Homo sapiens: one gene and its partner. The protein of the gene in region 1 purifies or fractionates together with the protein of each later gene. This does not show direct contact. Each region holds a gene or a part of one and is shown in the gene's direction. Other genes may lie near its edges.

Region 1 (3,821 bases):
AAACTTTTTAAAGAGAGCAGATGGGAAATATTTTAGGCTTTGTGTACCGTTGTCACAGCTACCCAACATTGCCATGGTCGTGTGAAATCAGCTGTAGACAGTAAATGAATGGACAGAGCTGTGTTCCAATAAAATACTGTTTTCAAAAACAGATATTAGATTGGATTTGGCCCATAGGCCATAGTTTTCTGACTCCTGCTATAGAGAGAGTGACTGGCAATAGTGGTAATATATTTCTATTTAATCTACAAAGATACTTCTTTTTTTCACTTGTTGCCTATTTTTCTCTTTTTTTCTTTTTCTTTCTTTCTTTCTTTTTTTTTTTTTGAGATGGAGTTTCGCTCTTGTTGCCCAGGCTGGAGTGCATGGAGTGCAGTGATGCAATCTCGGCCCACCACAACCTCCGCCTCCTGGGTTCAAGCGATTCTCCTGCCTCAGCCTCTCGCCGAGTGGCTGGGTTTACAGGCATGTGCCACCACGCCTGGCTAATTTTGTATTTTCAGTAGAGACGGGGTTTCTCCATGTTGGTCAGCCTGGTCTTGAGCTCCCGCCCTCAGGTGATCCGCCTGCCTTGGCCTCCCAAAGTGCTGGGATTACAGGCGTGAGCCACTGCGCCTGGCCTGGAATTACTTTTCTAACTTTGTTTATGCCTGAATCAAAAACGATTAATGAAATTATATCGTCATACATAGTATTGTATAACTTAATTTTTTAAGAAGCAAATATGGCATAATAGCTGAAAAAAAAGGTTCTGTAGTAAAGCTTAACTATGAATGCCATCATCAATCGAACTATAAAACAGGGACAATAACAATGCCTCACTTAACTGGGTTCTTGTGGGAAGTAAATGTGATTATATTTGTGGAGCATCTAGCATAATGGAACGTTGTAGTAAGACCATAATTATTCATTTCTGTCTCAAGTATATTCTTGCAAATACAGCACTTATACCTAGTTTTAGAAATTTAAGGGAATTGAAATGTTCTCTTGCCTCATGGCCATCTCCACCCATTCCCTTCACTTGTTGCAGATGATCTTACCTTTTACTCTCTAGATAAAATAGAACCTACTTGGGATGAGTTTTTTCAGTTTTTTCCAATTACAGTTGTACTCGTGTTTTCTACATTCTGCTGGTCTCAGAGGAAAAATAGACATATTCAGTGTCTGCTACCTTCAATCTTTGTCCTCCCCTCCAGCCCATGGCCAGTTTTCTTCCAGGACTTTGCTCCAGTAATTTTCATCTCTTTCCTATAGCTTTAACCTAGTATCTGCTTCTGTTCAGCCCTCAAACATGGTCAGGTCTGTCCCATCAGAAAACTATACCAATCTGATCTGGAATCTGGTAGCTTCTTCAGCCTCTGCCTGTTCTCTTTCCCTTTGTGCTAAGCTTATTTAAAGAATATTCTGGGCCGGGTGTGGTGGCTCACACCTGTAATCCCAGCACTTTGGGAGGCTGAGGCGGGCAGATCACGAGGTCAGGAGATCGAGACCATCCTGACTAACACGGTGAAACCCCATCTCTACTAAAAATACAAAATATTAGCCGGGCATGGAGGCAGGCGCCTGTAGTCCCAGCTACTCGGGAGGCTGAGGCAGGAGAACGGCATGAACCCGGGAGGTGGAGCTTGCAGTGAGCCAAGATTGCGCCACTGCACTCCAGCCTGGACGACAGAGCAAGACTCCGTCTCAAAAACAAAAAAAACCAAAACAAAACAAAACAACAACAACAACAACAATATATATATATATATATATATATATATATATATATTCTGCACGTACTGCCTTTCCTCATCCTACTTTGACCACTGGAACTGTTCTTCCAAAGGTCAACTCTGACTTCCTAACAGCTTAATCTACTATTGTGAATGGTTTAAGGTCATGGATAACCAGGTACACACACATTTGTGTCTTTTCACAATGTCAGACTTTTATTGTGTTATTTCAGTTATAAAAGACAAGTTACATGGAGTTCTCAAGGAGGCAATTTTTATTAGTACTTCTCATTCACTAGGTAGTCAGTCAATATTGTAAATCATATATAATAGTATACCTAATTAATACATAAATGATGTAGATTAAACATTCTGCAACAAAGTAACATTGAACATCAAGAGAAAAGGGTGAGGAAAAAGGGTTACCTAACCAGTCCGGGGAGAGTGATATAGACAAGTATCCTGGTTTCATCATGGCAGTGTGTTGGTCTTGTAAGAAAGAATCCTTGATGTGGGCAGAGCCTTTGGACACAGATATCAGGCTTTTATAACAAGTGACAGCAAGACAGTGTCTGTTAAGACCATTTTGAGTTTTTTAAGTCCTGTTCTTTTTATGGTCACAGAGTCTTCTGGTAAGGACTGATAGTGGAAGAGCATGCTTGGTTGTGTCTTTATCTGGAAAAACATCTGGTCCCTGTTGTCAAAGTGCTTTTTGAAATGAAAGATAGGAGTCTTTTTCTAAGATGGAGTTACTTATGTCAAGAGTGCTCTATACATCTACTGACTGTTTTTGCATTCTTAATTGATTCCAGTTCTTTGTAAGTATTCTATACTGTTGACCCTTCTACCTTTCTGAAGCTCCTTCTGAAAGAGCAGTTGGTGTTTATTTTTTACTAAATAGCAATTGCTCTTTTGGAAGGAACTTGAGAAGACATTACTCCTTTTAGGGCCCTAAAATTAACAGTGGTTTCTACTACTAACAGATACTATAGCTATAAAGGACATGTAGAAACCAACAATTGTTGAGTGCCACCTGTGTGCCTGGTATGATGCTAGGTGCCAACCATAATTTTTTGTTTTTGTTTTTGAAACTCAGTCTCGCTCTGTCGCCCAGGCTGGAGTGCAGTGGCGTGATCTCGGCTCACTGCAAGCTCCGCCTCCTGGGTTCACGCCATTCTCCTGCCTCAGCCTTCCGAGTAGCTGGGACTACAGGTGTCTGCCACCACACCCGGCTAATCTTTTTGTATTTTTAATAGAGAGGGTATTTTTTTTTTATACAGAGTCTCGCTCTGTCACCCAGGCTGGAGTGCGGTGGCACGATCTCGGCTTACTGCAACCTCTGCCTCCCAGGTTCAAGTGATTCTCCTGCCACATCCTCCAGAGTACCTGGGACTACAGGTGTGTGCCACCACTCCTGGCTCATTTTTGTATTTTTAGTAGAGATGAGGTCTCACCGTGTTGGCCAGGCTGGTCTCGAACTCCTGACCTCAAGTGATCCACCCACCTCAGCCTCCCAAAGTGCTGGGATTGCAGGTGTGAGCCACCATGCCCAGCTACTTTCCATAATTTGATTCTAACTTCTCATAGCAACCTTGACAAATACCGGTCTCAAAATTACAAATGAGGAAATTGAGACATAGAGATTTGAAGTTACTTATGTAATATATACTATACTTGGGACGTAAACCTATATTTTATCCCTAAACACTCGAGAGTGTCATCCATGAGGCCATTTGTGTAACTTGCCTATCTGTCTGTGTATGTATGAGTTAGCTTGATTGTTATGTCAGGGAAAAGACTTACATTAACTCTGATGAGGTGAATAACATTTTTAAATATGAAAGCCATTGTAAGTGGCTTTTAATCTTTAGAATTTTATTAGCTCAAACCACAGAAAACATCTTAGGTGGTTTTTAAAAATTTTTTTAAATTTTTATTTGTTTTGAGACTAAGTCTCACTGTGTTTCCCAGGCTGGAGTGCTGTGGGATGATCACAGCTCACTGCAGCCTCAATCTCCTGAGCTCAAGCCATTCTCCCACCTCCTAAAGTGCTGGGATTGCAGGTGTGAGCCACCGTGTCTGGCTTTAAAATAATCTTTCTGTTCT
Region 2 (3,821 bases), on another chromosome or scaffold:
TGCAATGAAGACATCTTAAAGGACTCACAGGTGCCAGTTGTAGGGTCCCTACCAGAGAGGGCTGGGAATTGCACACTCTTAGGGAAGGGAAAACCAGTGAAGTCTTGCCTGTGTCCACTGGGCTTATACCCGGCAACCAGCTGCTGCATTCCTAAGAACACCCAGCAACCAACCTGCCTCTCTCCCTTTGTGCTTCCACATCCTCATTCTGAATTTAGATCAGAACAAAGAGTAGAGAAGGAAATGAGCCAGAAAATAGAAAATTAATACTTGGTAAAATCATCATATTTTAAAATTAATTTATAGGCAATGTCAGATAACAGGAGTTAAATCATTTTATCAGCAGGCTGCTCTAGGATTTAAAAATTGGCATCCGTCATTGTAAATCAGGTCTCAGGAGCCCCAGGGAATGGTCTCTAGGGATGAGGGCTGATGGCTGGGCAGAAATGTAAACACTTGACTGGCTGTGCCCTTTTATTTCACACAAAACCTAAAATATTTTTACATCACATGGAGTGGTTAGGGTGTGTTAAATAGTAACTGGAGGGAAGAAGCTATTGAGGTTTACAGTTAGCCTGCTTTTAATGCTTATCTTCCTCCCTGTTGGTCCTGGGAAACTGGTTGTGTGAGAGATGCTCATTTTGAGGTTGCATTCCTGGCTCATTATTTAAGGGTTAGGCTTAACCTTCTGCATAGATACATTTTCCCTAGTAGTTTGGCTGTCACGTTTCTGCCATGCCTGTGAGCAGGAGCATCCACAGGTTTGCCACATTTGTCCTGGGAAGACTTTCTGTGATTAAAGACCTGCCTTTCATCTTTTATCATTGCAGCTCTTTGCCGAGGGCGTGTGGTGAGAGTCCCCACAGCGACCCTGGTTCGAGTGGTGGGCACTGAGCTGGTCATCCCCTGCAACGTCAGTGACTATGATGGCCCCAGCGAGCAAAACTTTGACTGGAGCTTCTCATCTTTGGGGAGCAGCTTTGTGGAGCTTGCAAGCACCTGGGAGGTGGGGTTCCCAGCCCAGCTGTACCAGGAGCGGCTGCAGAGGGGCGAGATCCTGTTAAGGCGGACTGCCAACGACGCCGTGGAGCTCCACATAAAGAACGTCCAGCCTTCAGACCAAGGCCACTACAAATGTTCAACCCCCAGCACAGATGCCACTGTCCAGGGAAACTATGAGGACACAGTGCAGGTTAAAGGTACAGTCCTCACATGGGCTTGTTATGCCAGGGGCCAGACCTTTCTCTGCCCCTGGGCTGTGGTGGACTTTGTCAAGAGACTTAATTTCTCTGAGGCTCTGCTCCCTCCTCTGTCCAGGGGAATAATCATGTCTTAAATAATCATGTCTTAAAATTTAAAAATCATTGTTATCTGATTAAAGGCAGGGGATGGGCCAGATGACCTCAGAGGGCCCTTTCTCTTCACTCCGGTATGGTTCTGAGCCACCCTATGCCCAGTGAGGTGGAGGCAGCATGATGCGGTGGTGGAGAGCTGGCTCTGGAGCCAGGTTGCCTGTGATTGTTTGGTCCAGTTGCTGGCTCTACTACTTGTCAGCTGCATGGCTGTGGGCATGTTACATGCCTCAGCTTCCTCCTCTGTAACCTTAAAGGTTGTGAGGACAGCTGAGTTACCAGGTGTAAAGCCTTAGAGCAGTGCCATGTAAGCATTCAGTGGTTAGTGACAGGAAGGGGATGGTCATGTTAATGATGCTCAGGTTTATGGGAATCACAGGCACTTCAAAGTTCATGTCTTTCTCTGTGGCTTTCATGATTTAAGTACTTGTTTGTACCAGATGTTTTATGTGTTATATGTAATGTGGTCTCTGCTAGCTTATTGACCTAGCTTTGCAAATATTACACCTTATGTACCTGGAATGTTTTGGGATTTGTTTTGGGGGTTTTGTTTGTTTGTTTCATTTTCCAAGTCCTTTTAGATTTACTCACACATTCAATTCTCTGAACCCAATCAAAATAGGGCAGAATATTTCCCTAATTTATACATGAGGAAATGGAAGAGCATAGGTTAATTACTTTCCTAAAATCACACAGCTAATTAGTAAACGAGCAAGAACAAACCATTTTAATTTGGGGCTAAGAAAATAGAAACATTATAATTGTTGTTATTGTTACTTAATTATGCATTTATTTGTACCCTGCCTTGTTCCCAAAAGGATTTATGTCTGGGTCAGAATGTATGTAATTATCAGAAAGTAGAAAATGCACATGATGATATAAAAAGCGAGGGTTGATTGAGGCATTCATTCCCTCATGACTTGTAGAACCCTGCCATAGCTCAGAGACTGTTCCCTCACTAGACTCATCAGGGGATAAAACTGTCCATTAAGGAGGTAATGAAACACCCCATCTACCTCTTTATTCCTATAGAAAATTCAGAACATGTTATTTAGAAAAAGACACTCTTGTATTGGAGCTAAATATTGCCACATGCCACTTTTTCATTAAGCCAGATGCCCCCTTGTATCCCCTTGGAGTCTCCTCTTGAGTGGGAGGGAGAGTAAGGGGAGAATTCCCCCACCCGCACCCCACTTCCTCCAGTATCTTTCAGCCTCTTCTGCTGTCTTTGGAAGGCAGGAGACACAAGAGGAGGCCTTTCTTGGGTGAGGAAAGCAATGGATGACCATGAGAGAGACTGACTGCTGCCCAGGTGGAGCCTCTGATGGTTGCCATGTGTGGTCCAGGATCTGCCCGGCCTTCAGCTTCATGGCTCTTGAAACTATTCATCTGTGCTCTGAGAGATGAGCTGGCCTTGAGAACTGAGTCATATTAGCCAGACTCACAGACTGATACATATACTAGAAGGTCATTATATTTATTTTGCAGTAGAGATGGGTCTTCAGGATGTGTCCTCCTAAAAATGTAGCAGCTTTTAAATGTTATCTAGAATAGCCCCTTCTCAAGGACACTGAATTAGTTTCTGAATATGGAATTGGGGGGAAAAAAAAACAGATGATGAATAGTGGTGTTGGAGGGTCCTCTTAGCCAGCTCATGGATAAGCCTGATAGATTTTTCCCTGCTGCTTGGTAGTGGCCCCCTTTCTGGTTACCAGAATAGCAGTATCCATCTACTGCTTTTTTCCTGAGTACACCACCCATACTTCCTTGATCGCCGTCCCCTTTTTCTAGACTCTGTAGAAGTGTCTGGGCCTGTTCCTATCATGTGGATATGCTGTGTTCACCCTAGACATTCTTGGGCATTCCCCAGGCTGCAAGCCACAGGCAGCTCATGCCATCCTTTCTCCCCTGTGGATCTTGCTACTTTAAGTCTAGAAGGTCACCTTATCTGCAGATTCTGCGGGCTCCCTAGCCTAGCCCTGGTCCTAAGCAAAGAAATGTTTGACAGTCATACCCAATGATTTATCATGACAGCTGAGTGCCAGGCACGGTCCTGGGAACTTACCCTGTTTAACTTAACTCTCATGTCAACTCTATGACGAAGGTCCAGTTGTCATCCTCCTTTTAGGAAACTGAGGCACAGAGGGGTAAAGTAACTTGCCTTAAGGGTAGCAGAAGCACATCACATCCCCAAGGCACGACTCCCACAGGGAGTTTTTACCACCCACTTCTAGCATGGGGTTTTTTTGGTACCTTTATTTTTCTTTTTCAAGTCAGAAAGTCAATTGAGATTACAGATGAATCCAGTTGGGAAAACGTGCCCATCCGGGTCTTGGAATGGGAAAGGGAGGAGGAAATTGTCTGTGGTTGCAGCGGTGGGCTGGCCCTTGCCGGCTGGGGTCGGTGTGGACGGGCTACTGACCTAGCTTTCTCTCTCCGCAGTGCTGGCCGACTCCCTGCACGTGGGCC

The links.
Region 2: the proteins of SLC25A17 (region 1) and PTGFRN purify together in Homo sapiens (affinity purification with mass spectrometry; one large-scale study listed by BioGRID and IntAct). This does not show direct contact.

The regions. Positions count from the first base shown.
Region 1 is NC_000022.11:40,812,705-40,816,525, reverse strand, and holds part of SLC25A17 (peroxisomal membrane protein PMP34), read left to right. Parts: intron 1-2,567; exon of another isoform or gene 2,568-2,643; intron 2,644-3,821.
Region 2 is NC_000001.11:116,940,885-116,944,705, forward strand, and holds part of PTGFRN (prostaglandin F2 receptor negative regulator precursor), read left to right. Parts: intron 1-830; coding exon 831-1,199; intron 1,200-3,794; coding exon 3,795-3,821. UniProt on the Homo sapiens protein: Inhibits the binding of prostaglandin F2-alpha (PGF2-alpha) to its specific FP receptor, by decreasing the receptor number rather than the affinity constant. Functional coupling with the prostaglandin F2-alpha receptor seems to occur.